Linked DNA regions of Homo sapiens: region 1 is linked to region 2. Evidence: fine-mapped expression QTL. A gene starts in region 2. The other region holds a variant in brackets. All regions are shown on one strand. Distances are from middle to middle.

Region 1 (16,296 bases), 44 kb after region 2:
GGAGAATAACCAGTGGCTCTTTCATGCAGAGAATCAGGGTAGACCTCTGGGGAGAGACCCGCACTCAGACTGGGATGGAATTATTTATTTTATGCGTGTTCAGTTAGGAGTAGAGGTGCTCTGTCGTGATTATCTAATCTTGGGAGGAACAATGTCAGACGGGTTTCAAGATGAGTATGAGAATTGGTCTTCCTTCTGAAAAAACAAGAATTGAGTTCACACTAATCACAAATACATCAAGCCTATTTGAGTCTTGTGTGTGTCATGGATTGAAGTGTATCTTTCCACTTAGTCAAGAAGTTCCAATGAGAAGAATGCTCCTTAACTTCCTAAGTGCAACAGAGTAGTTGAACTGAGCCATGGATGGTAAATCTACTTAAGAAAGCACATGCCATGGAAAGATAGCATTGGCTGCCCTGCCTACTTCTGATGGCACAGCCTTGCAGGAAGGGAAAGAAGCCAAGAGGCAAAAGCCTGGTCTTGTTCTGAAAGGCACAAGGAGGTGGAAGATTAGGGGAAACTCACCCAAAAATGACTCAGCTCTGAACTCAGACTCAAGAAGCCACAATAAGCAACATGAATGGAACTGGAGGGAAATAAACCAGGCGTAGAAACACAAATGTTGCATATTCTTACTCATGTGGGAACTAAAAACATGCATTTCAAGGAGAATAGAATGATGGTTATCAGAGACTGGGAACAGTTGTGGGTGGGGGTGTTAAGAGAGGTTGCTTAATGGGTACAAACATATAGTTAGATAGAAGGTATAAGTTCTAATGTTTGACAGCAGAGTAGGAGAACTATAGTTAACAGTAATATATTGTATACTCCAAAATAGCTAGACAGGAAGATTTGAAATGTTCCCAACACATAGAAATGACAAAAGCTTGAGGTAATGGATACCCTAAATATCCTGACTTGATCATTACACAGTCTATGCGTGTAACGAAATACCATATGTACCCCATAAATATGTACAAATATTATGTATCAATAAAAATTTTTAAAAAGAAGCTGCAATCAACATTTCATCATTATCTTTTCAGCAGCATCCTTACAAAGTTACAGAGACATCTTAAGATGTATCCCTCTTCCTCTGAATCTTCCTGGGATAGAACAAATGAAAACTAAACAAGGAGTGGGCTGGGAGGAGCTGTCAACATCCATCCTAAGGAAAAGTCTGTTAGGGCTATGAGCTTCCTCTGTCCTAGAGTAGAGCTGGGAAAATAGAGTCTTGACAATTGATTTCTTATTCTTTCTTTCTCTAAATCCCCAATGAATATGTTTTTCTTTTTAGTGCTCAGTGGTAGACAGGGCTTAATTCTGTTTAGTTATGCAAACAGGCCAGAAGAAACTGAAATAGGCTATAAATGTTTGAAGCTGGCCAAAAGAAGATGTAGTCACACAAGATACCCTCTGGAGGAAAGTGACTGTCAGGAAAGTCACTTTCCTGACCAGCAAAAGGACCAGCACTATTTTGTCCTGCTGAAGAAGTACATTTGTCCTGCTGCTGTCATGGGGACAGTGGCTCCAGGGCTTCCTGTGGACATGCCACAAGTTCCACTCCATGAGTCAGGAGATCATGCGGTCAGCTGGGGGGAACTTAGGGTTGCTCTCTTGAGCTTAGCCTTATGCTGCGTGTCTGCTTTGCCAACCACAAAAACGATAGTTTCATAGCAAGTTGCAGGCTCCCTGGAAACTTAACCTACCTACTAGGATACATTTACAGCTGCTTTTCTCCTGGCATCAGGCTGGAGATCAAGAAATACATAAAACATAGTCCCTGCCCTCAGTTAGCTCAGAATATGGTGGGGGAATGGAGACAGAAGCAAATACTGGTGGGACAAGTGACGATGGGCCAAAATATGGGCTTAAACAAAGGTTGTGGGAGCTCAGAAAAGGAGCAACTCACTCTGCCTGAAAGAGTCATGGAGGGCTCCACGGAAAAAGCAACATTTGTGCAGGAGGAGATTAGAACACAGAGGAGAAGGATAGCAGCACTCCAGATGAAGGGAAGGAAATGTGCCAAGATTTCATGGGAATGAGAAGATGTAAACTGCTCAGGAAAAACCATGGTTGAAGCTCTTCACAGTGGCTGAAGCATGGTGTGATTGTCAGTTTTGCTTGTCAACTTGGTCAGGCTGTAGTACTCAACTATTCAACCAAGCACTGATCTAGGTATTGCTGTGAAGGTATTTTGTAGTCGCAATTAACCTCTACAATCAGTTGACTCTATTTAAAGGACATTATTCTGTACTATCTGAGTGGACCTGATCCACTTCATCCCAAAGGTAAATGATTCTCCAACAGTGTTCTCATCTACATCTAGGGCTTGGAAGATGAAGGTGAAGGAGAATATGGAAAAACAACAAGAAAAAAGTCAATCAATCAGAACTTCCAGCCCTGTGTTTGTTAGTTCACTTTATGTTCAACCAGTATGTCTCCACTTTTATCTGCTTCCTTGTAAGATTTCATCTGAAAAAGGGAATTCACTCTTCAGGTGTTGGAAATCAATTATGAGAGAAGCACTTACAGAATGACTATCTGAAGAGCTCTGCAGACATTCTCCAGAGTAAAACAACCATAACCGGTGAAAATTAAAAACAAACAAAATAAAAAAATGTTAGAGTATTGGAAATTGTTCTAAGGGCCGACAGCAAATGAAGAAATCCAAGAAAGCCTACCAATTTCAGTGAGAGGAGTGAGAGTCTATGGTGTTGAGTCTATGGTGTTTAAGTTCTGTTCATTTCCTCCCTCTCCTGCAATCAGTTCAGTGAAACAGAAACCCTGCTCCAGAGATGTGCAGCCAAAAAGACAGGGTGCCCTTTCCCCTCAGCTCCCAATCTAGGGCAGACTACCAGCATTTCCCAAGCCCATCTCTGGCTCTATGTTGCAGAAGTTCTATTCCAAGAAAGTTTGACTGAGAATCTGAAGCTTCCTTCTTCCACTCAGCCTCTACTATTAAGGCGTAAGTTCTATCCCCAGTGCCACGGGCCAAGAATACTGATGCTGAATGTCCTTGCTCCGCTACACTCATAGGGCAGAGATTCCATGGGAGGAGTGAAGTTTCCATTCCAGAAAAGGCAGAAAAACAGAAATTACTGCCCAATCCAGTACCCCACCCATAAAGAAGGAAAGACATCTGAGAAAAGCATGACACTGTCCCCAAAACCACCTGCAGAGTAGTGGCAGTAGAGGCAGTAGGGAGACTAGAGGACCTGCCTAGAGGGAGAAGTAGGCCATAAGAAGAAAAGTCTCTAGTTCTCCCTAAAGGGACAAACTTTATTTGCAACAGAACATGCGGAAGTTCAAGCCTAAGGGCACTGTCAAAAACAATGAATATTTTGGTGGTAAGCAATTAATAGGTTAATGGCAGCTTAGTGAGAGCAACAAACTAAACCATAAACCAGCTAGACATATACAATAAAAATCCAAGAAAGAGAGAGCCAAGAAGGGCCTTCCTGAGGTTAAAACAAACATCAAAGTCTTGTCTGAAAAACTGCTCCTGCAAAGGAAGCAAAATATATTTGGATCAGACTGTGGAGCAATTTATGCCCCTAAAAAGCTGTCAAAACCAAAAGAGCAATTATCTAGCAATTGCTGGAGGTTAACAGTTGGGTATGATACCAAAAGAGGCAAACAACTGAACAGATCAGAGAAAGAGGCAGTCAAAGAGAGCACTGCTAAATGCACTGTAATTCCAATTTGAGAGAAAATGTGCCCAGTGCTGTGACTCCCTCAGGAACAACATCAGAGGCCACAAATTATGGTGGAAATAGGCTTCACTATATAGTCTAGCCAGGCAATTAAACAAATAAACAATTAAACAACAGTAACATAGTGAGGGGGGCAGAAATGAGTATTGCAACTAGCTAGAACATATTTTTGAACAAAAAAATTATGAGTCAAGCAGAGATATGGAAAAGACAGAGCCATACACCAGAAAAAAGGTAAGCAAGAGAAACTGCCTTTGTGAGTGCCAAGATGTCAGACATAGCAGAAAAAAAACCTCAAAGTAATTATTATAAATATGTTCAAAAACTAAAAGAAAATGTGCTTAAAAAATAAAAGATGGTATGATAATTTCTTGTCAATTCAAAAATACCAATAATAGATTAAAAATATTTTTTCAAAAGTTAATTAACCAAATGGAAATTCTGGGGTTTAAAAGTAAAATAACAACAATAAGAACATTTTGCTAGAGGAAATGAACAATAGATTTGTACCAGAAGGAAAAATAATCAAATAAACAGGGATTTCATCAACACCAAACCTGTCTTACAAGAAATACTAAAGGGAGTTCAATCTGAAAGAAAGAACATTAACAAGCAACAGGAAATCATCTGAAGGTACAAAACTCACTGTACCTTCAGATGATAATAAGTCCTCAAAAAACACAGAATATTATAACACTGTAATTATGGTGTGTAAGCTACTTATATCATAAGTAGAAAGAGGAAAAGATGAACTGATTAAAAAACAATTACAACAGCTTTTCAAGACAGTATAATAAGATATATAAATAACAGAAAGCTTAAAAGCATATAAATAAAGTTAAAATGTAGAGGTTTTTTTAGTTTTCTTTTTGCTTGATTGTGTATTTATTTATGCAATCAGTGTTGTTTTCATCAGCATAAAATAATGGGTTATAAGATAGTATTTGCAAGCCTCATAGTAACCTCAAATTTAAAAACATACAATGTATACACAAAAAGTGAAGAGCAAGAAATTAAAACATACCACCAAAAAAAATACTTTCACTAAAAAGGAGACAGGAAGTAAGAAAAGATGGGAGAGAAGATCACAAAACAACCAGAAAATAAATAACAAAATGGCAAGCAAGTCCTTATTTGTCAATAATAATATTGAATGTAAATGGACTATACTCTCCAGTAAAAAGATACAGAGTGGTTGAATGGATTAAAAAAAAGGACCCAATGATCTGTTACCTACAAGAAATAAACTTCACTTATAACAATACACAGACTAAAAATAAAGTCATGGGAAATGATACTTCACGACAATGGAAACCAAAAAAGAACAGGAGTAGCTATACCTTTATCAGACTAAATAGATTTCAAGACAAAAATTGTTAAGAAAAACCAAATAAGGTCATTATATAATGATAAAGAGATCAGTTAAGCAAGAGGATGTAACAATTGTAAATATATATGCACTCAACATTGGAGCACCTAGATAAATAAAACAAATATTATTAGAGCTAAAGAAAGATAGACCCCCTCCCCCAAAACAATAATAGCTGTAGATTTCAATGCTCCACTTTCAGCATTGGACAGATCTTCCAGACAGAAAATCAGCAAGGAAACATCAGATGTAATCTGAACTATAGACCAAATGGGCCTAATAAGTATTTACAGAATATTTCATCCAAAGGTTACAGAAGACACATTTTTCTCCTTAGCACATACATCATTCTCAAGAACAGGCCATATATTAGGTCATGAATCAAGTCTCAAAACATTCAAAAAAACTGAAATAATCTCAAGCATCTTCTTTGACCACAATGGAATAAAACTAGAAACCAATAACAAGGGGAATTTTGGAAACTATACAAAAACATGGAAATTAAACAATATGTTCCTAAATGATAAGTGGGTCAATGAAGAAATTATGAATTGAATTGAAAATTTTCTAAAAACAAATGACAATGGAAACATAATGCACCAGAACCTATGGGATACAACAAAAGCAGTACCAAGAGTGATATTTCCAGATAAGGGCCTACATCAAAAAGGAAGAAAAACTTCAAGTGAATAACCTGATGATGCATCTTAAAGAATTAAAAAGGCAAGAGTAAACCAAACCCAAAATTAGTAGAAGAAAAGAACTAATAAAGATCACAGTAGAAATAAATAAAATTGGACTTCTGCTCCAAGATGGCCTAATAGAAACAGCTCCAGTCTGCAGCTCCCAGCATGATTGGCACAGAAGATGGGTGATTTCTGCATTTCCAACTGAGGTACCAGGTTCATCTCATTGGGACTGGTTGGACAATGGATGCAGCCCATGGAGGGTGAGGTGAAGCAGGGTGAGGAGTCACCTCACCCCGGAAGCACAAGTGATTGGGGGATTTCCCTTTCCTAGCCAAGGGAAGCCGTGACAGACTGTACCTGGAAAATCGGTTCACTCCCACCCAAATACTGTGCTTTTCCCATAGTCTTAGCAACCGGCAGACCAGGAGATTCTCTCCCAAGCCTAGCTCATCAGGTCCCATGCCCACGGAGCCTGGCTCACTGCTAGCACAGCAATCTGAGATCAACCTGCGAGGCTGCAGCTGGGTGGGGGGAGGGGTGTCAGCCATTGCTGAGGACTGAGTAGGTAAACAAAGTGGCCAGGAAGCTCAAACTGGGCAGAGCCCACCGCAGCTCAGCAAGGCCTACTGCCTCTATAGATTCCACCTCTGTGGGCAGGGCATAACTGAACAAAAGGCAGCAGACAACTTCTGCAGATTTAAACGTCCCTGCCTGACAGCTCTGAAGAGAGCAGTGGTTGCCCCAGCATGGCATCTGAGCTCTGAGAACAGACAGACTGCCTCCTCAAGTGGGTCCCTAAACTCCATGTAGCCTAACTGGGAGACATCTCCCCATAGGGGCCGACAGACACCTCATACAGGTGGGTGCCACTCTGGGACAAAGCTCTCAGAGGAAGGATCAGGAAGCAATATTTGCTCTTCTGCAATATTTGCTGTTCTGCAGCCTCTGCTGGTGATACCCAGGCAAACAGAGTCTGGAATGGACCTCCAGCAAACTCCAGCAGACCTGCAGCTGAGGGACCTGACTGCTAGAAGGAAAACTAACAAACAAAAAGGAATAGCATCAACATCAACAAAAAGGACATTCACACCAAAACCTCATCTGTAGTCACCAATATCAAAGACCAAAGGTAGATAAAACCACAAAGATGGGGAGAAACCAGAGCAGAAAAGCTGAAAATTCTAAAAACTGAGCACCGCTTCTCCTCCAGAGGATTGCAACTCCTCACCGGCAACGGAATGAAGCTGGGTGGAGAATGACTTTGACAAGTTGGCAGAAGTAGGCTTCAGAAGGTCGGTAATAACAAACTACTCCAAACTAAAGGAGCATGTTCTAACCCATTGCAAGGAAGCTAAAAAACCTTCAAAAAAGGTTAGACAAATGGCTAACTAGAATAAACAGTGTAGAGAGGAACTTAAATGACCTGATGGAGCTGAAAACCGTGGCATGAGGACATCATGATGCATGCACAAGCTTAAATAGCTGATTAAATCAAGTGGAAGAAAGAATATCAGTGACTGAAGATCAAATTAACAAAATAAAGCAAGAAGATAAGATTAGAGAAAAAAGAGTAAAAAGAAATGAAAAGCACCTCCAAGAAATATGGGACTATGTGAAAAAACCAAATCTACACTTGATTGGTGTACCTGAAAGTGATGGGGAGAAGGAAACCAAGTTGGAAAACACTCTTCAGAATACTATCCAGGAGAACTTCCCCAAACTAGCAAGGCAGGCCAACATTCAAATTCAAGAAATACAGAGAACACCACAAAGATATTCCTCAAGAAGAGCAACCCCAAGACACATAATTGTCAGCTTCACCAAGGTTGAAATGAAGGAAAAAAATGTTAAGGGCAGCCAGAGAGAAACGTTGGGTTACCAACAAAGGGAAGCCCATCAGACTAAAAGTAGCTCTCTCAGCAGACACCCTGTAAGCCAGAAGAGAGTAGGGGTCAATATTCAACATTCTTAAAGAAAATAATTTTCAACCCAGAATTTCATATCCAGCCAAACTAAGCTTCATAAGTGAAGGAGAAATAAAATCCTTTACAGACAAGCAAATGCTGAGAGATTTTGTCACCATCAGGCCTGCCTTACAAGAGCTCCTGAAGGAAACACTGAACATGGAAAGGAACAACTGTTACCAGCCACTGCAAAAACACGCCACATTGTAAAGACCATCGATGACATGAAGAAACTGCAACAATTAACTGGCAAAATAAGCAGCTCACA[G/A]CATAATGACAGGATCAAGTTCACACATAACAATATTAACCTTAAATGTAAATGGGCTAAATGCCTCAATTAAAGACACAGACTGGCAAATTGCATAGAGTCAAGACCCATCAGTGTGCGGTATTCAGGAGACCCATCTCACATGCAAAGACACACATAGGGATGGAGGAAGATCCACCAAGCAAATGGAAAGCCAAAAAAAAAAAAAAAAAAAAAAAAAGCAGGGGTTGCAATCCTAGTCTCTGATAAAACAGAGTTTAAACCAACAAAGATCCAAAGAGACAAAGAAAGCCATTACATAATGGTAAAGGGATCAATACAACAAGAAGAACAAACTATCCTAAATATATATGCAACCAATATGGGAGCACCCAGATTCATAAAGCAAGTCTGTAGAGACGTACAAAGAGATGTAGACTTCCACACAATAATAATGGGAGACTTTAACACTCCACTGTCAATATTAGACAGATCAATGACACAGAAGGGTCACAAAGATATCCAGGACTTGAATTCAGCTATTCACCAAGTGGACCTAATAGACATCTACAGAACTCTACACCCCAAATCAACAGAATGTACATACTTCTCAGCACCACATCATACTTATTCTAAAATTGACCACATAATTGGAAGTAAAACACTCCTCAGCAAATGTAAAAGAACAGAAATCACAACAAACTGTGTCTCAGACTACAGTGCAAACAAATTAGAACTCTGGATTAATAAACTCACTCAAAATCACACAACTACATGGAAACTGAATAACCTGCTCCTGAATGACTACTGGGTACATAATGAAATGAAGGCAGAAATAAAGATGTTCTTTGCAACCAATAAGAACAAAGACACAACATACCAGATTCTCCGGGACACATTTAAAGCAGTGTGTACAGGGAAAATTATAGCACTAAATGCCCACAAGAGAAAGCAGGAAAGAACTAAAATCAACAACCTAACATCGCAATTAAAAGAACTAGAGAAGCAAGAGCAAACACATTCAAAAGCTAGCAGAAGGCAAGAAATAACTAAGATCAGAACAGAACTGAAGGAGATAGAGACACAAAAAGCACTTCAAAAAAATCAATGAATCCAGGAGCTGGTTTTTAAAAAGATCAACAAAATTAATAGACCGCTAGCAAGAATAATAAAGAAAAGAGAGAAGAATCAAATTAGACTCAATAAAAAAAGATAAAGGGGATATCACCACTGATCCCATAGAAATACAAACTACCATCAGAGAATACTATAAACACCTCTACATAAATAAACTAGAAAATCTAGAAGAAGGGGGAGGAGCCAAGATGGCCAAATAGGAACAGCTCCAGTCTACAGCTCCCAGCGTGAGTGACACAGAAGACGGGTGATTTCTGCATTTCCATCTGAGGTACCGGGTTCATCTCACTAGGGAGTGCCAGACAGTGGGCACAGGTCAGTGGGTGCGCGCACTGTGTGCGAGCCAATGCAGGGTGAGGCGTTGCCTCACTCGGGATGTGCAAGGGGTCAGAGAGTTCCCTTTCCTAGTCAAAGAAAGGGGTGACAGATGGCACCTGGAAATTCGGGTCACTCCCACCTGAATACTGCACTTTTCCAACGGGCTTAAAAAACGGCGCACCTGGAGAGTATATCCCGCACCTGGCTTGGAGGGTCCTATGCCCACGGAGTCTTGCTGATTGCTAGCACAGCAGTCTGAGATCAAACTGCAAGGCAGCGGCGAGGCTGGGGGAGGGGCGCCTGCCATTGCCCAGGCTTGCTTAGGTAAACAAAGCAGCTGGGAACCTCAAACTGGGTGGATCCCACCACAGCTCAAGGAGGCCTGCCTGCCTCTGTAGGCTCCACCTCTGGGGGCAGGGCACAGGCAAACAAAAAGACAGCAGTAACCACTGCAGACTTAAATGTCCCTGTCTGACAGCTTTGAAGAGAGCAGTGGTTCTCCCAGCACGCAGCTGGAGATCTGAGAACGGGCAGACTGCCTCCTCAAGTGGGTCCCTGACCCCTGACCCCCGAGCAGCCTAACTGGGAGGCATCCCCGAGCAGAGGCAGACTGACACCTCACACAGCCGGGTACTCCAACAGACCTGCAGCTGAGGGTCCTGTCTGTTAGAAGGAAAACTAACAAACAGAAGGACATCCACACCAAAAACCCATCTGTACATCACCATCATCAAAGACCAAAAGTAGATAAAACCACAAAGATGGGGAAAAAACAGAGCAGAAAAACTAGAAACTCTAAAAGGCAAAGCGCCTCTCCTCCTCCAAAGGAATGCAGTTCCTCACCAGGAATGGAACAAAGCTGGACGGAGAATGACTTTGACGAGCTGAGAGAAGAAGGCTTCAGATGATCAAATTACTCCGAACTACGGGAGGACATTCAAACCAAAGGCAAAGAAGTTGAAAACGTTCAAAAAATTTAGAAGAATGTATAACTAGAATAACCAATACAGAGAAGTGCTTAAAGGAGCTGATGGAGCTGAAAACCAAGGCTCGAGAACTACGTGAAGACTCAGGAGCCGATGCGATCAACTGGAAGAAAGGGTATCAGCGATGGAAGATGAAATGAATGAAATGAAGTGAGAAGGAAAGTTTAGAGAAAAAAGAATAAAAAGAAATGAACAAAGCCTCCAAGAAATATGGGACTATGTGAAAAGACCAAATCTACATCTGATTGGCGTACCTGAAAGTGACGGGGAGAATGGAACCAAGTTGGAAAACACTCTGCAGGATATTATCCAGGAGAACTTCCCCAATCTAGCAAGGCAGGCCAACATTCAGATTCAGGAAATACAGAGAACGCCACAAAGATACTCCTCGAGAAGAGCAACACCAAGACACATAATTGTCAGATTCACCAAAGTTGAAATGAAGGGAACAATGTTAAGGGCAGCCAGAGAGAAAGGTCGGGTTACCCTCAAAGGGAAGCCCATCAGACTAACAGCGGATCTCTCGGCAGAAACTCTACAAGCCAGAAGAGAGTGGTGGCCAATATTCAACATTCTTAAGGAAAAGAATTTTCAAACCAGAATTTCATATACAGCCAAACTAAGCTTCATAAGTGAAGGAGAAATAAAATCCTTTACAGACAAGCAAATGCTGAGAAATTTTGTCACCACCAGGCCTGCCCTAAAAGAGCTCCTGAAGGAAGTGCTAAACATGGAAAGGAACAACCGGTACCAGCCGCTGCAAAATCATGCCAAAATGTAAAGACCATCGAGGCTAGGAAGAAACTGCATCAACTAACGAGCAAAACAACCTGCTAACATCATAATGACAGGATCAAATTCACACATAACAATATTAACTTTACATGTAAATGGACTAAATGCTGCAATTAAAAGACACAGACTGGCAAATTGCATAAAGATTCAAGACCCATCAGTGTGCTGTATTCAGGAAACCCATCTCACGGGCAGAGACACACATAGGCTCAAAATAAAGGGATGGAGGAAGACCTACCAAGCAAATGGAAAACAAAAAAAAGGCAGGGGTTGCAATCCTAGTCTCTGATAAAACAGACTTTAAACCAACACAGATCAAAAGAGACAAAGAAGGCCATTACTTAATGGTAAAGGGATCAATTCAACAAGAAGAGCTAACAATCCTAAATATATATGCACCCAATACAGGAGCACCCAGATTCATAAAGCAAGTCCTGAGTGACCTACAAAGAGACTTAGACTACCACACATTAATAATGGGAAACTTTAACACCCCACTGTCAACATTAGACAGATCAACAAGACAGAAAGTCAACAAGGATACCCAGGAATTGAACTCAGCTCTGCACCAAGCAGACCTAATAGACATCTACAGAACTCTCCACCCCAAATCAACAGAATATACATTTTTTTCAGCACCACACCATACCTATTTCAAAATTGACCACATACTTGGAAGTAAAGCTCTCCTCAGCAAATGTAAAAGAACAGAAATTATAACAAACTGTCTCTCTAACCACAGTGCAATCAAACTACAACTCAGGATGAAGAAACTCACTCAAAACTGCTCAACTACATGGAAACTGAACAACCTGCTCCTGAATGACTACTGGGTACACAACGAAATGAAGGCAGAAATAAAGATGTTCTTTGAAACCAATGAGAACAAAGACACAACATACCAGAAATTCTGGGATGCATTCAAAGCAGTGTGTAGAGGGAAATTTGTAGCACTAAATGCCCACAAGAGAAAGCAGGAAAGATCCAAAATTGACACCCTAACATCACAATTAAAAGAACTAGAAAAGCAAGAGCAAACACATTCAAAAGCTAGCAGAAGGCAAGAAATAACTAAAATCAGAGCAGAACTGAAGGAAACAGAGACAAAAAAAACCCTTCAAAAATTAATGAATCCAGGAGCTGGTTTTTTGAAAGGATCAACAAAATTGATAGACCGCTAGCAAGAATAATAAAGAAAAAAAGAGAGAAGAATCAAATAGATGCAATAAAAAATGATAAAGGGGATATCACCACCGATCCCACAGAAATAAAAACTATCATCAGAGAATACTACAAACACCTCTATGCAAATAAACTAGAAAATCTAGAAGAAATGGATAAATTCCTCGACACATACACTCTCCCAAGACTAAACCAGGAAGAAGTTGAATCTCTGAATAGACCAATAACAGGAGCTGAAATTGTGGCAATAATCAATAGCTTACCAACCAAAAAGAGTCCAGGACCAGATGGATTCACAGCCGAATTTTACCAGAGGTACAAGGAGGAACTGGTACCATTCCTTCTGAAACTATTCCAATCAATAGAAAAAGAGGGAATCCTCCCTAACTCATTTTATGAGGCCAGCATCATCCTGATACCAAAGCCGGGCAGAGACAAAACCAAAAAAGAGGATTTTAGACCAATATCCTTGAGGAACATTGATGCCAAAATCCTCAATAAAATACTGGCAAACCAAATCCAGCAGCACATCAAAAAGCTTATCCACCATGATCAAGTAGGCTTCATCCCTAGGATGCAAGGCTTGTTCAACATATGCAAATCAATAAATGTAATCCAGCATATAAACAGAACCAAAGACAAAAACCACATGATTATCTCAATAGATGCAGAAAAGGCCTTTGACAAAATTCAACAACACTTCATGTTAAAAACTCTCAATAAATTAGGTATTGCTGGGACGTATCTCAAAATAATAAGAGCTATCTATGTCAAACCCACAGCCAATATCATACTGAATGGGCAAAAACTGGAAGCATTCCCTTTGAAAATTGGCACAAGACAGGGATGCCCTCTCTCACCACTCCTATTCAACATAGTGCTGGAAGATCTGTCCAGGGCAATCAGGCAGGAGAAGGAAATAAAGGGTATTCAATTAGGAAAAGAGGAAGTCAAATTGTCCCTGTTTGCAGATGACATGATTTTATATCTAGAAAACCCCATTGTCTCAGCCCAAAACCTCCTTAAGCTGATAAGCAACTTCAGCAAAGTCTCAGGATACAAAATCAATGTACAAAAATCACAAGCATTCTTATACACCAACAACAGACAAACAGAGAGCCAAATCATGAGTGAACTCCCATTCACAATTGCTTCAAAGAGAATAAAATACCTAGGAATCCACCTTACAAGGGATGTGAAGCACCTCTTCAAGGAGAACTACAAACCACTGCTCAACGAAATAAAAGAGGATACAAACAAATGGAAGAACATTCCATGCTCATGGGTAGGAAGAATCAATATTGTGAAAATGGCCATACTGCCCAAGGTAATTTACAGATTCAATGCCATCCCCATCAAGCTACCAATTACTTTCTTCACATAATTGGAAAAAACTACTTTAAAGTTCATATGGAACCAAAAAAGAGCCCGCATCACCAAGTCAATCCTGAGCCAAAAGAACAAGGCTGGAGGCATCACACTACCTGACTTCAAGCTATACTACAAGGCTACAGTAACCAAAACAGCTTGGTACTGTTACCAAAACAGAGATATAGATCAATGGAACAGAACAGAGCCCTCAGAAATAATGCTGCATATCGACAACTGTCTGATCTTTGACAAACCTGAGAAAAACAAGAAATGGGGAAAGGATTCCCTATTTAATAAATGGTGCTGGGAAAACTGGCTAGCCATATGTAGAAAGATGAAACTGGATCCCTTCCTTACACCTTATACAAAAATTAATTCAAGATGGATTAAAGACTTAAATGTCAGACCTAAAACCATAAAAACCCTAGAAGAAAACCTAGGCATTACCATTCAGGACATAGGCATGGGCAAGGACTTCATGTCTAAAACACCAAAAGCAATGGCAACAAAAGCCAAAATTGACAAATGGGATCTAATTAAACTAAAGAGCTTCTGCACAGCAAAAGAAACTACCATCAGAGTGAATAGGCAACCTACAGAATGGGAGAAAATTTTTGCAATCTACTCATCTGACAAAGGGCTAATATTCAGAATCTACAAAGAACTTAAACAAATGTTCAAGAAAAAAACAACCCCATCAAAAAGTGGGCAAAATACATGAAAAGACACTTCTCAAAAGAAGACATTTATGCAGCCAACAGACACATGAAAAAATGCTCATCATCACTGGCCATCAGAGAAATGCAAATCAAAACCACAATGAGATACCATCTCACACCAGTTAGAATGACGATCATTAAAGTCAGGAAACAACAGATGCTGGAGAGGACATGGAGAAATAGGAATGCTTTTACACTGTTGGTGGGGGTGTAAATTAGTTCAATCATTGTTGAAGACAGTGTGGCAATTCCTCAAGGATCTAGAACTAGAAATACCATTTGACCCAGCAATCCCATTACTGGGTATATACCGAAAAGATTACAAATGGTGCAACTATAAAGACACATGCACACGAATGTTTATTGTGGCACTATTCACAATAGCAAAGACTTCTAACAAACCCAGATGTCCATCAATGATAGACTGGATTAAGAAAATGTGGCACATATACACCATGGAATACTATGCAGCCATAAAAAAGGATGAGTTCATGTCCTTTTCAGGGACATGGATGAAGCTGGAAACCATCATTCTCAGCAAACTATGACAAGGACAGAAAACCAAACACCGCATGTTCTCACTCATAGATGGGAACTGAACAATGAGAACACTTGGACACAGGGCAGGGAACATCACACACCAGGGCCTGTTGGGGGGTGGTGGACTGGGGGAGAGATAGCATTAGGAGAAATACCTAATGTAAATGATGAGTTGATGGATGCAGCAAACCAACAGGGCACATCTATACCTATGTAAGAAACCTGCACTTTGTGCACAGGTACCCTAGAACTTGAAGTATAATAAAAATGAAAAAAAGAAAATGTTACTAGCAAATTGTAGATGGGTATACCTAATATAACTCTGCATGTGCACTATGTGTCTGGATACACATGGAAAGTATTCAGGCATACACACCAAATTGTTAAAATAAATCCCCTTCCAACATTAGGAGTGGCTGGGGAGCAGATGGCTTTCACTTCCGCACATTCCATGGTGCCAGGGTAATACCACATCACAATAGTAAATAGCAAAAATAACAACCTTAAGTTTAGATTTTCTTATCTAAATTTTAATTCTGTGAAGAAGTTTCCATTTCCCTTTTTCACACAGGATAGTAGAATGCAGTTTAGAAAGAGTGAGATCACTTGTTAGACTGTACAATTTTTAAGCATCAGCGAAGTATACCATTAAACTTCTCTATCAATCCATTCTCTAAACTTCCCAACCCAAAAAAAAAGAAACACATAAAATTGAAATGAAGAAAACAATACAAAAGATCAACAAAAATGAAAGGTTGGCTTTTTAAAGAGATAAACAAAATTGACAAATGTTTAGCCAGACTAAGAAAAAGAGAAGGCCCAAATAAATAAAATCAGAGATGAAAAAGCAGACATTATAACTGATACTGCGGAAATTCAAAGGATCATTAATGGCTACTATGAGCAACTGTATGCCAAACATTGGAAAATATTGAAGAAATAGATAAATTCGTAGACACACGCAACCTAACAAGATTCAACCATGAAGAAATTCAAAATCTGAACAGACCAAAAACAAGTAACAAGATCAAAGCCATAATTAAAATTTTCCCAGCAAAGAAAAGCCTGAGACCCAATGGCTTCACTGCTGAATTCTATCAAACATTTAAAGAACTAATACCAATCCTACTCAAACTATTCCAAAAAGTAGAAGAGGAGGGAATATTTCCAAACTTATTCTATGAGGCCATTACTGCTCCTATATCAAAACCAAGGACACATCAAAAAAAGAAAACTATAGGCCAATATCTCACATGAATATTG
Region 2 (16,296 bases):
AGCACAACTGAGGGTAGAAACATGGTGACATTGAGGCAGTGTGCAACCTGTGATAAGATCAGTCTGAACAGGACTGTTCAGGACTGAACAAGGTTTCCTTCCCATATTTAAGATGGCCTTGCCAAGAATTTGTGACTTATCTTTAGCAACATTTGTCACTGCCTGTGGGAGACACTAGGGAGAGCTGTTCACAACTATTACTCTAAGTGGACCCTGAAGGAGCAATTAAATTAAGTGCTTCTTTACTGGGGACTTGCCTGTCATTGGGGTTCACAGAAAGGCCAATTCAGATTTCTAATCCAAATGTGTAGAAAAGGGTGTGGGCCCAAGTGGGGGAGGAGGGACAGCAGGACACATTCTCTGTCCCAGCTCACAGAATCTGGGTCAGGGCAGACCCAGGCTCAGGTGCTCAGAACGTGTCCACACCTGGGGACTGGAGAAAGACTGTCAGGCAGGCAAGTAGCATTTCTGGACTGCTATCCATGGAAGGCGAGGCATGGAGCAAATGTTTCCATGCTTCTCTGTATAAACCACTCTTTCTAACAGAGCTGGCCTCTCCCTGTCCCTCATAAACAGCTTGGATCTTATTTATCCCTGCTTGATCTCATTTCATCCAAATCCCACCCAGATCTAACTCTATCTCCCCTACCAAACCTTCCCTGACTCCCTGGAAGGAAAGGACCACTCTGTCTGCTGAGTCTCTGTCCCATTCAGGGGTTCTCCACCAGGCTCTGGAGGCAATAACATGGGCTTCAGAGTCTTTCCAGACCTGGGGTAAAATCTCTGAAAGTTACTGGTCATGTGACTTTGGGTGACTGCGCTTAACCTCTCCAGGACTCATTTATAATAATGAAAAGCCTTATCGCCTTATCACAGTACCTAATACAGGAAAGGGGATTGGCAATATTTTATTTCCCTTCTCCCAATTCAGGATGTACGTAGATGTATGTTTTTTCTTCCATATTAGTTAGCAAGCAGAGAGCTGACTAAATATCGATGGGTTTACTATTAAAACGCACTTCAAACAGTTCTAATTTTACTAAGCAGCACTAAACTAAACAGTTCATTAATGGCTTTGAGACTTTACTCTGTTTCTTAAATAGCTGCAGAAACTTGTATAAGTCCGTAGTCTCTCTGAATCCCAATTTTTCAATATATAGAATGGGAATAATTATACCTACCTTCAGAATTTTTGCGGGGACTAAATAAGATGACGTACATGAATCCATTTTAGAAACCATGTTAGTTGTCATTATGAATGGGTCATCTATAGAAATAATTATTCCAAAAAATTCTGCCTTGGCAGTATTAAGCCCAAGCAGATTACCTTTATTTCAACAAAATAAAAGATCCATGAACAAGGAATTCCCTTCCTGTGATGTTAATAATATGCTACCATTCAGGAATAAATGTGTGTTAGGTTAAAAGCTAAACTGTTAACATGAAGAGACCTAAATATATAGTGGCTTCATTTTTTCTCTTTTGCTCAACAATCTGAAGATATACATAAGTTGTGGGGTAGCTTCCAGACTGATGGGGCAGTCTTGCTCCACTAAGTCATTAAAGGATTTAGGTTCCTCTCAAATCAATGATTCTTGATCTCCTACGTGATGATTCTCTTTACCATAAAAGTTGCCATAACCTCTACATTTTAGTTGTAAAAAGGGACAATATAGAAAGCTCAAATAATACAATTTATTTTAAGCAAGTGAGGCAGATATTGTGCACATAACTTCTGCTCATATTTTACAGGCAAAAGTTTAGTTACATTGCTTCACCTAGCTGCCAGGGAAGCTGGGAAATGTGGTCAAGCTGGAAAGATACATGTACAGGAAAAAGGGAGAATGGATTTTTGGAAAAAAACTAATAATTGCCACAAATATGCAAGAGAACTAGAGATAAGGAACTTAGGAATAAAAGACTGGAAGTAAGAATGAATTGTATATGTTACTCCCGAGAACTGAGATTCGAGGAAGAAAAAAAGGATGATTATATACTTACACAAGAAAGAGGGCGGAAGTGAAAAGAAGAGGGTGAAAGAGGTAAACAGGCAATGAACAGTATTAAAAGTTAAAAGAGAAAATCAAGGACATGAATTAAAGAGTTATAATATCCTTACAAGGTATCCAGAAAGAGTCAAAAGTGGTGGAACCCTGAAAAATTATGCAGAACCCCAAAAGTTCCCATTTGATGGAGAAAAATGCTTTGTAGAGTTGTGGAATGACTGACTGAAAGAGAGTAGGATCTGTGCTGCGAGATGACTTGCTGGCCAAGGAAATGCTTGGAAACTTGGAAAAACTTAGGGATCTGGAGAATGTCATGAGGAGTCCTGCCTGGGCAATACCACTGCTCAATTTTTCCAGGCCTATCCCCTAACCTCAGCAAGGACCAGCTATAAAACAATCCTTTTAAAACTTTTTAGTTATTTCTATCACCCAGCCATAGCCTTGGGTGCATTTCATATTTCTCAAGACATTCGCCTTCAACTTTCCCAACATATTATCTTGGGCTTGCATCTTACATGATTAAAAAGAGAAATACCATTGTATCAGAGCTCCTCAACTTAATTACTTCCCATCTCAATCTTTCTACATCTTTAACTTCAGTCTTGGTTGAGCTCCACCCTCTGTGCTTGTTCTTGAGAAACAAGCAAAAGAGCTAAGAAAGGCTTAGAGCAAACTGGTAAACATTGTTATTTTCTTTTAGGTATCCATATTGCGACAGGGTCTTGATATAATATCCATACTAGGTATAATTTGCATACCAGATATTCAAAGAAGTAGGAGAATATGGCCATAGTGAGAAAAATAAAATCAACTCAGAAATGACAAAAATAAGAGAACTAGTAGAGACATTAAAATAGTAGTGATACAAAGAGAGGAACAATAAACACTGGGGCCTACTTGAAGTTGGAGGGTAGGAGAAGGGAGAGGAACAGAAAAACAACTATTGGGTACTAGGCTTAGTACCTGAGTGATGAAATAATAAACAAACTCCTGTGACACGAGTTTACCTACATAACAAACCTGCACATGTACCTCTGAACCTAAGGTAAAAGTTGTAATAAAATAAAATAGTTGTCATAACTATATTTCATATGCTCAAGAAGCTAGAGAAAAGACTTAGCATATCAAATAGAGACAAAGAAGATATAAAAAGATGAACAATTTCTAGAGATGAAAACTACAATGTCTGAAATTAATAATACATTGGATGAGATTAACAGTGGATTAGACATTGCAAAAAAATTAGCAAATTAGGGAAAAGTATAATAAACCTGCCCAAATGAAATAGAAGTGGAAAAATAAACATAAGAACTGTAAGTGAGCTGTAAGACAACCTCAAATAGCCTAATATACATATAATTAGACCCCATAAGGGCATGAGAAATGGGAGAAGAACAGAAAAAAATTTGAATGAATAATGGCTACAATTTTTCTAAATGTAATGAAAAATATAAACCTACAGACTTAATAAGCTCAATGAACCCCAAGCACAATAAATATGAAGAAACTCACACCAAGCCACATGATCAAAATCAATAATAAAAATAAAATCTTAAAAACAGGCAGAGTAAAAAGGCACATTAAGTACAAAGACACAAAGATAAGAATTACAGCAGAGTTTCTATACAATCAGTACAAGCAAGAAGACAGTAGAGAAACACTAAACAGTACTGAAAGAAAAAAACTGTCAATGTAGAATTTTACACTCACTAAAAATACCTTCTGAAAATGAAGAAAAAACATTTCACAAATATAAAAGTTAAAGGAATTCATCATCAGAAGATATGAACAAAAAAAAAATGTTAAAGAAAACCCAGAGACTCACAGTGAGACACACTATAATCAAACTCTCAAAAGTCAAAGACAAAGAGACAATCTTGAAAGCAGCAAAAGAAAGTAACTTGTCATGTAAAAGGAAGCCTTTATAAAATTATCAGTGGATTTATCAACAGAAACCTTGCAGGCCAGAAGGCAGGGGGATAATATATTCAAAGAGCTGAAAGAAAAGAAAATTTCAACCAAAAATATTATATCCAGCAAAACCATCCTTCAAACATAAAGGAAAAATCAGCCTTTCCAGGATGAACAAAAACTGGGGAGTTCATTACCACTGGACCTGCTGTAGTATCTTGCAAGTTGAAACAAAAGGATGCTAAATAGTAACATGAAGTCTTATGAAAATATAAAGCTCTCCAGTAAAGATAAATATATGGACATATATAGAGACTGTACTATGCAGTTTTGGTACATAAATGCACTTTTAATTCTTGTATAGAATTTACAAGACAAAAGCTTAAAAATAACTATAAAACTGTGTTAATGAATACATTACATATGAAGATGTAACTTGTGACATAAGTAACCTAAGGTGAGGGTAGGAGCTTTGAAGAAATAGTTTTTGTACACAGTCGAAGTTATTCTCTTAACAGTTTAAAATAGCTTGTTAACACTTTAAGATGTTTTTTATAATTCTTATGGTAACCATAAAAAAATCTATAGAATACACACAAAAGGAAACAGGAAGGGAATCAAAATGTCACCACAAAAAAAAATCGACAAAACCCAAAAGAGGTCAGTAAGAGAAGGAATAAAAAACAAAATTTACAAAACATACAGGAAACAACAAAATGGCAAGTGTAGGTCCTTCCCTATCAGTAATTACTTTAAATGTAAATGGATTAAACTCCTGAATCAAAAGATATAGACTGGAAAATGGATTTGTAAAAAGGATCCAACTTTATCCTGTCATTTAGGTCTAAGAAACAAATATGCTTAAAATGAAAAAAAGGAAAAGTAAATGCCATGCAAATGGTAAATAAAAGCAAGCAGAAGTGACTATACTACTATCCAACAAAATAGACTTAAAGTCAAAAATAGTCACAAGACAAAAAAATGGATATTATATAACAAAAAGTCAATTCAGCAGAAAGATATAACAATTACAAATATATATACCTCTAATACCAGAGCTCCTAAATATCTGAAGCAAACATTGACAGATCAGAGAGGAAACATAAACAGCATAATAATGGTAGGCGACTTCAATTCCTCACTTACAATAATGGCTAGAACAACAAGACAGAAAATCGATAAGGAAATACAGTACTTGAACAACACTATAAATAGTGCTAACAAACATGTGCAGAACATTCCACCCAATAAAATCAGAATAGTATTTTTCTCAAGTTTACATGGAATATTCCCAAAGATAAATCACATGTTATACCACAAAAAAACTTGTAACAAATTTTAAAAGATTGAAATTATACAAAATATCTATTTTGATGAAAATGACATAAAACTAGACATCAGTAGCAGAAGGAAAACAAAAAATTCACAAATATGTGAAAATTAAACAACACAGTTTTCAACAAGCAATGGGTCAAAAAAGAAATCACAAGGGAAGTTAGAAAATATCTTGAGATAAAGGAAAATAAAAATACAATGTACCAAAATGTGTAAGATGCAGCAGAAGCAGTGCTAACAGAGAATTTTATAGCTATAAATATGTGCATTATAAAAGGAAGAAAGTGGCTAGGCATGGTGGGTCATGCCTGCAATCCCAGCACTTTGACAGGCTGAGGGAGGAGAACTTCTGGAGGCCAGGAATTTGAGACCAGCCTGGGCAACAAAGCAAGACCCCATCTCCACAACTTAAGAAAAAAAAAAAAAGAAGTAGAAGAAAGTTTGCAAATCAACAACCTAACTTTATACCTCAGGAAACTAGGAGAGAAAAAAAACTACACCCAAAGCTAGCAGAAGGAGGAAAATCCTAAAGATTAGATTAAATCAGAGATAAATGAAATATAGAATATAAAAACAATAGAAAAAAATCAACAAAACTAAGAGGTGGTTTTTGAAAACACCAACAAAATTAACAAATGCTTAGCTAGATTAACTAAGGAAAAAAGATTCAACTAATAAATCAGAAATAAAAAAGAGAACATTAGAACCCATGCCATAGAAATCAAAAGGATTATAAGAAAATACCATCAACAGTTAATTATATGTCAACAAATTGGATAATTTAGAAGTGCATAAATTTCTAGAAATATACAACCTAATAAGAGTGAATCATGAAGAAGTAGAAAAAACGAACAGACTTATAACTACGAAGGAGATTAAACTGGTTCAAAAACCTCCAAACAAACAACAGCCCAGAACCGGATGACTACCAAACATTTAAGGAAGAATTAGAACCAATGTTTCTCAAAGTCATTTACAAAAATGAATATAAAAAACACTTCAAAGCTCATTATATGAGGCCAGTATTACCCTGATTTCAAAGTCAAACAAAGACATTACATGAAAAGAAAACTACAGACCAATATTTGTGATGATCAGGTTGGCTTTATTCCTGGAATGCAAGAATGATAGAACATGTGGCAGGGTGTGCTGGCTCATGCCTGTAATCCCAGCACTTTGGGAGGCTGAGACAGGAGAATCCCTTGAACCCAGGAGGCAAATGTTGCAGTGAGCTGAGGTCATGCCACTGCACTCCAGCCAGAATGACAGAATGAGATTTCATCTCAAAAAAAAAGAATAATACAACATGCAAAAATCAATGTAATACACTATAGTAATAGAATAAAGGACAAAACAGCATGATCATTTATATTGATGTAGAAAAAATGTTTAACAAAATTTAACACCTTTTATCACGAAAACACTCAGCAAACTAGGAATAGAAGGAAAATAACATAATAAAGGCCATATATGAAAAATCCACAGGTAAACTTACACTCAATGGTAAAAGATTCAAACTTTTCTTCTGGATTAGGAACAAGACAAGTATACTCTGTCTCTTCGCTTCTATTCAATATAGTATTTGAATTTCCAAGCAGACCAATTAGGAAAAAAAAATTAAGCAAGAAAAGACATCCAAAGAATAAAAGAAAAAAGTAAAATTATCTCTGCTCACAGATGACTTGATCCTATATGCATAAAATCCTAGACTCCTGCATAAAATCTAGAAAACTGTTAGATGCATATATGCATAAAATCCAGAAAACTGTTGGAACTATTAAACAAATTCTGGAAAGTTGCAGGATCCAAAATCGACACACAAAAATCAGTTGCCTTTCTATAAATTAACTATAAACAATCCAAAGGTAATTAAGAAAATAATTTAATTACAATACCATCAAAAATAGTAAAATACTTAGGAATAAACTTAGCCAGGGAAATAAAAGGCTTGTACACTGAAAACTACAAAACAGTACTGAAAGAAGTCACAAATAAATGTAAAGACATTGGTATTCATGGATTGGAAGATTTAATGTTAAGATCTCCAAAATATCAGATGTATTCCCCAAATCTGTACAACATTATGTATTAATTTGAAAAGTCAATAGAACCCAAAGCAGTCTACAAATTATATGTAATCCCTATCAAAATCTAAGCTGCATTTTTTGAAAAAAGAGAAAAATTTATCTAAATATTCATATATACTCTGACTAGACAATCTTGAAAACTAACTGAGTTGAAGGTCTCATGCTCCGTGATCTCAAAACATGTTACAAGACTACAGTAATTAAAACAGCATGACACTGGCTTAAAGAGAGACATATAGACCAATGGAATAGAATAAAGAACCCATTAAAAGAAAACTCCACATATATGGTCAAATAATATTTACAGCATTCCAGATCCGCTCAATGAGGGAAGAACATTCTCTTCAACAAACAGTGTTGGGAAACTTGGATATCCACACATGAAAGAGTGAAGTTGAAACTTTGTCTTATGCCATATACAAGAATTAACTCAAAATGGATTTAAAACTTAAATGGAAGATCTAAAACTATAAAACTCTTAGAATAAGGGGATATGGCAATTATTTTTTAATATGACACCAAAAGTACAGACAACAAAAGAAAAAATAGACAATTGGGACTACATCAAACTTTTTAAAACTTTTATGCATTAAAGGACATAACAATGTTAAAAAAAACTTGTGGATGGAAGAAAATATTAGTAAATTATATATCTGATAAAGAGTTAATATCCAGAATATATAAATAATTTCTACAACACAATATTTAAAAATAATATGATTTTAAAATGGCAAAAGGATTTGAATAGACATTTCTTTTAAAATTATATATGAATGGGCAAAAAACATAAGAAAAAATGCTCAGCATCCAAACTGGAAAGGAAATCATTAGAGAAATGTAAATCAAAACCACAATGTAATATCTCCTCACAAAAATTGAGTGGTTTACTATTAAGAAAAAGAAATATTAGATAGGATGCAGTTGATAGCAAACAGCTTAAAAGCAACGTGACCCCAGATACTAACTCAAAGCCACACAAAAAACAAAAAGCTCTGGCAAAGACATTTATTTATATTTTTATTTATGTATTTATTGAGGGTTTTGCTGTTTTGTTGTTGTTGTTGTTTACTGTTTTATTTTTGCTTTTTCAACTTTTATTTTAGATTCAGAGGGCACTTGTGCAAGTTTGTAACCTGGGTATATTGTGTGATGTTGAGGTTTGGGGTATGAATGGTCCCATTACCCAGATACTGAGAATAGTACTCAACAGTTTTTCAACACTTTCTCCCTTCCCTCCTTCACCACCCCAATAGTCCCCAGTGTCTATTGTTGCTATCTTTATGTCCATCAGTACCCAGTGTTTACCTCCCCCTTATGAGTGAGAATATGTGGTATTTGATTTTCTGTTTCTGTATTTGTTTGCCTAGGATAAAGTCCTCTAGCCAAATCCATGTTGCTGCAAATGACATGATTTTCTTCATTTTCTTTTATTTTTTATTTTTATTTATTTTTTTTTATTATTATACTTTAAGTTTTAGGGTACATGTGCACAACGTGCAGGTCAGTTACATATGTATACATGTGCCATGTTGGTGTGCTGCACCCATTAACTCGTCATTTAGCATTAGGTATATCTCCTAATGCTATCCCTCCCCCAGCCCCCCACCCCACAACAGTGCCCAGTGTGTGATGTTCCCCTTCCTGTGTCCATGTGTTCTCATTGTTCAATTCCCACCTATGAGTGAGAACATGAGGTGTTTGGTTTTTTGTCCTTGCAATAGTTTGCTGAGAATGATAGTTTCCAGCTTCATCCATGTCCCTACAAAGGACATGAACTCATCATTTTTTATGGCTGCATAGTATTCCATGGTGTATATGTGCCACATTTTCTTAATCCAGTCTATCATTGTTGGAAATTTGGGTTGGTTCCAAGTCTTTGCTCTTGGGAATAGTGCCACAATAAACCTACGTGTGCATGTGTCTTTATAGCAGCATGATTTATAGTCCTTTGGGTATATACCCAGTAATGGGATTGCTGGGTCAAATGGTATTTCTAGTTCTAGATCCTTGAGGAATTGCCACACTGACTTCCACAATGGTTGAACTAGTTTACAGTCCCACCAACAGTGTAAAAGTGTTCCTATTTCTCCACATCCTCTCCAGCACCTGTTGTTTCCTGACTTTTTAATGATCGCCATTCTAACTGGTGTGAGATGGCATCTCACTGTGGTTTTGATTTGCATTTCTCTGATGGCCAGTGATGATGAGCATTTTTTCATGTGTTTTTTGGCTGCATAAATGTCTTCTTTTGAGAAGTGTCTGTTCATATCCTTTGCCTACTTTTTGATGGGGTTGTTTGTTTTTTGCTTGTAAATTTGTTTGAGTTCATTGTAGATTCTGGATATTAGCCCTTTGTCAGATGAGTAGGTGCAAAAATTTTCTCCCATTCTGTGGGTTGCCTGTTCACTCTGATGGTAGTTTCTTTTGCTGTGCAGAAGCTCTTTAGTTTAATTAGATCCCATTTGTCTATTTTGGCTTTTGTTCCCATTGCTTTTGGTGTTTCAGACATGAAGTCCTTGCCCATGCCTATGTCCTGAATGGTATTGCCTAGGTTTTCTTCTAAGGATTTTATGGTTTTAGGTCTGACATGTAAGTCTTTAATCCAACTTGAATTAATTTTTGTATAAGGTGTAAGGAAGGGATCCAGTTTCAGCTTTCTACATATGGCTAGCCAGTTTTCCCAGCACCATTTATTAAATAGGGAATCCTTTCCCCATTTCTTGTTTTTGCCAGGTTTGTCAAAGATCAGATAGTTGTAGATAAGTGGCATTAATTCTGAGGGCTCTGTTCTGTTCCATCGGTCTATATCTCTGTTTTGGTACCAGTACCATGCTGTTTTGGTTACTGTAGCCTTGTAGTATAGTTTGAAGTCAGGTAGCGTGATGCCTCCAGCTGTGTTCTTTTGGCTTAGGATTGACTTGGCAATGCGGGCTCTTTTTTGGTTCCACGTGAACTTTAAAGTAGTTTTTTCCAATTCTGTGAAGAATGTCATTGGTAGCTTGATGGGGATGGCACTGAAGATTTTCTTCATTTTTATGACTGCATAGCATTCCATGGAGTATATGTACCACATTTTCTTTATCCAATTCACTGTTGGTGGGCACCTAGGTCAATTCCATGACTTTGCTGTTGTGAATAGTACTGCAATGAACATGTGAGTGCATGTGTCTTTTTGGAGGAATAATTTGTTCTCTTTTGGATATATACCCAGTAATGGGGTTGCTGGGCCAAATGGTAGTTCTGTTTTAAGTTCTTTGAGAAATCTCCAAACTGCTTTCCACAGAGGCTGAACTAATTGACATTCCCACTGCCATGCATGAGCATTCCCTTTTCTCCTCAGCTCCACCAACATCTGTTGCTTTCTGACTTTTTGATAATAGCCATTCTGATGTGTGAGATGGTAGCCCATTGGGGTTTCTTTTTTTTTTTTTAAGACAGAGTCTCACTCTGTCACCTAGGCTGTGGCACAATGTTGGCTCGCTGCAACCTCTGCCTCCTGGGTTCAAGTGATTCTCCTACCTCAGCCTACTGAGAAGCTAGGGTTACAGGCACCTGCCACCACACCCAGCTAATTTTGGTATTTTTGGTAGAGACAGGGTTTAGCCATATTGGCAAGGCTGGTCTCTAACTCCTGACCTCAGGTGACCCACCTGCCTCGGCTTCCCAAAGTGCTGGGATTGCATGCGTTAGCTACCATGGGTGGTTTTTGACTTGCATTTCTCTGATGATTAGTAATGATGATCCTTTTTTCATACATTTGTTGGCCACTTGTATGTCTTCTTTTGAGAAGTGTCTGTTCATATCTTTTGCCCATTTTTCAATGGGGTTGTTTTTTCCTTGTCCAGTTGTTTAAGTTATTTATAGATTCTGGATATTAGTCCTTTGTTGGGTGCATAATTTGCAAATATTTTATCTCATTCTGTAGGTTATCTATTTAATCTGTTGATAGTGTCTTTTCTTGTACAGAAGTTGTTCAGTTTAATTAGGTCTCACTTGTCAATTTCTGTTTTTGTTGTAATTGCTTTTGAGGACTTAATCATAAATTCTTTCCCAAGGCCCATGTCCAGAATGGTGTTTCTGAGATTTTCTTCTAGGATTCTTTTACTTCAAGGTCTTATATTTAAATCTTTAATCCATCTGGAGTTAATTTTTGTATGTGGCAAAAGTTAGGTGTCTTGTTTTATTTTTCTGCATATGGCTAGTCAGCTATCCCAGGACCATTCATTCACTAGGGAGTCCTTTCCCCATTGTTTACTTTTGGCAACTTTGTCAAAGATTAGATGGCTGTAAGTGTGCAGATTTATTTCTCAGCTCTCTATTCTGTTCAACTGGTGTAGGTATCTGTTTTCGTACTAGCACCATGCTGTTTTGGTTACTGTAGTCTTATTAGTATAGTTTGAAGCCAGGTAATGTGATGCCTCTGGCTTTGTTCTTTTTGCTTAGGATTGCTTTTTGGGCTCTCTGTTGTTGTTGTTCCATATGAATTTTAGGACACTTTTTTCCAATTCTATAAAAAAATGACATTGGTAGTTTGGTAATAATAGCATTGAATCTGTAGATAGATTGCTTTGGGCAGTATGGCCATTTTAATGATATTGATTCTTCCAATCCCTGAGCATGGAATGTTTTTCCATTTATTTGTGTCCTCTCTGATTTCTTTTAGCAGCGTTTTATAGTTCTCCTTGTAGAGATCTTTCACCTCCTTGGTTAGCTGTATTCCTAGGTATTTTAATTTTTTGTGGCTATTGTAAGTGGGATTGCAGTCTTGATTTGGTTCTTAGCCTGAATGTTATTGGTTTATAGAAATACTACTAATTTTTGCACATTCATTTTGTATCCTGAAACGTCGCTGAAGTCATTTGTTTATTCCAGGAGGCTTTGTTGGAGTCTTTAGGGTTTTCTATGTATAGAATCATATCATCCACAAAGAGAGATACTTTTCTCTCTTCTTTTCCTATCTGGACGCCTTTTATTTATTTCTCTTGCCTGATTGCTTTGGATAGCACTTCCAGTACTATGTTGAAGAGGAATGGGGAGAGAGGGCACCCTTGTCTTATTCCTGTTCTGAAAAGGAATGCTTCCAGTTTTTGCGTGTTCAGTATGATGTAATTATTTTTCTATAATAGACAGTAGAAATGCATTTTTCTTTTTTCTTAACTCATTTTAAAAACAATTATATAAAATAACATGTATACAATATACTATTGGCCCTATAATATATACAATTCTATAATACATATATGCAATATATACAATTTTAATATGTGGGTGTTATGTATGCTAATAATAGCACCAATAATAATTTAAACAATGTATATCTTTGTAACATTAATTGATATAATATAAATAAAATAACCACAAAAGAGCAAGAGAATTAAGTTCTACATGAGTAACATTTCTACATATTACTGGAATTAAGCTAGTGTGAATCTGAAACTCATACTGATAAGATATATACAGAAAATCCTAGAGAAACCACTAAAAATAAAAATACAGTGATAAAATTATTAATAAAACTTAAATACTATATTAGAAAATATTAATTCAATGAAATAGAAAGAAGTAAAGACAAAACAGGAACAACAAAGACATGATACATATAAAAAACAAAAAATCCGGGCGTGCGGTGGCTCATGCCTGTAATCCCAACACTTTGGGAGGCCGAGGTGGGCAGATCACGAGGTCAGGAGATCGAGACCATCTTGGCTAACACGGTGAAACCCAGTCTCCACTAAAAATACAAAAAATTAGCCACGAGTGGTGGTGGGCACCTGTAGTCCCAGCTACTTGGGAGGCTGAGGCAAGAGAATGGCCTGAACCCGGGAGTTGGAGCTTGCAGTGAGCCGAGATCACGCCACTGCACTCCGGCCTGGGTGACAGAGCAAGATTCTGTCTCAAAACAAAAACAAAAAAGAACTAAAATGACAGACATAAATCCCACTAAATAATAATATGCAGTGTGAATGGAATAAACAATGCAATCAAAAGGCAAAGGTGTTATATTGGATAAGAAAACATGAAGTATATATTGTCTGGAGAAAACACAATTTTGATTCGAAGACACAGAATGAAAGTAAAAGAACAGGAAAAATATATTATGCAAACAGCAACCACAAAAACACTGGAGTCAGTACACTGATATCAGACAAATAGACTTTAAAACAAAAATTGTTACTAGAGATAGAGTGGCCTTTTGTAATTACAAAGGAATCCATCCATTAGGAAGATATAACTGTTATCAACATATATGCACCTATATATATGAAGCACCAAAATAAATGAAACAAAAACAGACCTGAGAAAAGAAAGAAATAGACAAGTCAACCGAGTCAACAGAAATAGTCAAGGACTTCAATACTACACGTTCAAAAATGGATAGAACAACTGGACGGATCAACAAGGAAAAAGAGGACTTGAGCAATACTACAAACCAAATAGACCTCAAGGACTATGGAACATTCTACTTAACAACAACAACAAAGTATACATTCATGTCAAGTGAGCATGGAACATTCTAGAAGATAGACCACATATTAGGCCATAAAACACACCTCAATAAATTTGAAGGATAGAAATAATGCAAAGTATGTTATTAACCACAATGGAATAAAATTAGAAATCAACAACAGGGGAAATTTGGGAAATTCACAAATATTTGGAAATTTAAAATGAAATTTCCACTCTAAAACAATTCATGAGTCAAAGAAGAAATCAAGACAGAAATTAGATAATATTTTTAGACGAATAATAATGAAGACAACATACCAAAACAATTGTGATGCAGCTAAAGAAGTAATTAGAGTAATATCAACAGCTGTAAACACTTGTATTAAGAAAGTTCTTAAATCAATAACTTAAAATTCTACCTTAAGACACTTACAAAAAATATGAAACTAAATTTAAGTAAGCAGAAGGAAGGAAATAATGATAACAGCACAAATTAATGAAATAATTTGATCGTTTGAAAAAAATCAATAAAATGGAAAAAACTTCAGTTTCATCAGGGAAAGAGGAGAGAAAACTCAAACTATAGAATCAGAAATAAAAGAAGAGACATTACTACTGACATTAAAGAAATAAAAAGGATTATAAAGGAATACCAAAAATAATTGTACACTGACAAATAAGATAATTTAAGTGAAATGAAAAAATTTCAAGAAAGACACAACTACCAAGACTGACTCAAGAAGAAACAGACAATCTGAATAGACCTAAAACAAATTAAGAGAATGAATCAGTAATCAAAAACTACCCAAAAAGAAAAGCAAATGGCTTCACTGGTGAATTCTACTAAACATTTGATAATACCAATTTTTCACACTCTTCCAACAAAAAGATGAGGAGGGTACACTTCTTGAACATTTTATGAAGCCACTATTTCCCTGACACAAAAACCAAATAAAGACATCACAGGAAAAGAAAACCATAGATCAATACCTCTTATCTTATGGGCACAAAAGTTCCCAACAAAATACTAGCAAACCAAATCCAGCAATACATAGAAAGAATTATACACCATGATTACATGGGATTTATCCCAAGGACACAAGGTTGGTTTCACATCCAAAAATCAGCTACCATAATACACCATTTCAATAGAAAAAAAATGGCCAAACTCTCAACAGACACAGAAAAAAGTATTTGATAAAATTAAATGCCCTTTCATAATTTTAAAAAATCAGCAAACTAAAATAAAAGGGAACTTTCTTAGCATGATAAAGGGCATATAGGAAAATCTCACAACTAAAATCATACTCAGGGGTAGAAAAACTGTAAGCTTTACTCCTAAAATCAGGAACAACACAAGGATGCCCATTTTCAACACTGACACTGGACATTGTACTAGAAGTTCTAGCCAGAGAAAAGAACATAGCCAAGAAAAAGACATAAGAGGCATACATATTTAAAAAGAAGCAGCTAAATTACTTACATTTGCAGAAGGCATGATTCTGTTAATAGAAAATCCCAAAGGATGCACCAAAAAACTACTAGATTTAGTAAATTCAGTAAGGTTGCAGGGTACAATATCAGCACATAAAAATCAGTTGTCTTTCTAAACGCTAGCAATGATGGGTATGGTAATCATTATTTGGCTGTAGTAATCACTTCATTGTGTATATTTATGTCAAAAGAAGTATATCAAACATCATGTGGATACCTTAACATACACAATTTTAAAAATTGTAAACCCTAAGTTATAGTAAATTGCAGCTATTTAGAGATGACTCAAAATGAAGAAGCTGTGGTTTAAAAAAAAAAATACTGGCTGGGTGTCGTGGCTCACACCTGTAATCACAGCACTTTGGGAGGCCAAGGTGGGCAGATCATGAGGTCAAGAGATCGAGACCATACTGGCCAACAAGGTGAAACTCCATCTCTACTAAAAATACAAAAATTAGCTGGGCGTGGTGGTGCACACCTGTAGTCCTAGCTACTCGGGAGGCTGAGGCAGGAGAATCACTTGAACCTGGGAGGTGGAGGTTGCAGTGAGCTGAGATCATGGCACTGCACTCCAGCCTGGCAACAGAACAAGACTCCATCTCAAAAGAAAAAACAATACTGAGAGTAAGCATTCCATTTAAATATAGAACCATCACTAGGCAGCTGTGGAATTTATGGTTACAGGACAGAATAAATACAGTAATATAAGACAAATGTCTAGAACTGAAATTACTGTGGCAAGGGATTTTAATAGATATTGGCTAACTGTCAACCAAGGAAGTATGTTCCACACCTATACCCATCTGTTTTGGTATTTCATCTCTGCTAAGTGAAAAATTATATGTTTTGTTTTATATTTTACTTCTTTAATTAATGGGAAAGGCTGAACAGCTTCTCACATGTATTAAATTTGTATGATTATTCTTTTTCTTAATCATTTGCCTGGGTTCTTGCTATGTTAAGAAATTATTTCTTCATCTACCACAAGTTGTAAATAGCTTTTCGTTAGTGCGTGT

The links. PIP is the estimated chance that this variant, and not a neighbour inherited with it, causes the effect.
Region 1: its variant is the best candidate, but not a certain one, in a credible set for the expression of OR13A1 in whole blood (TOPMed, PIP 0.55).

What each region holds. Positions count from the first base shown.
Region 1 is chr10:45,352,865-45,369,160 of GRCh38, forward strand. No RefSeq gene overlaps it. Among named protein-coding and RNA genes, the nearest start is that of ALOX5, 13 kb to the right of the region's middle. The variant G/A (reference allele first, on the strand shown) is at 8,007.
Region 2 is chr10:45,308,777-45,325,072 of GRCh38, forward strand. It overlaps OR13A1 (olfactory receptor family 13 subfamily A member 1), which reads right to left and starts at 6,832. Exons shown (of 4, transcript NM_001004297.3): 1 at 6,748-6,832.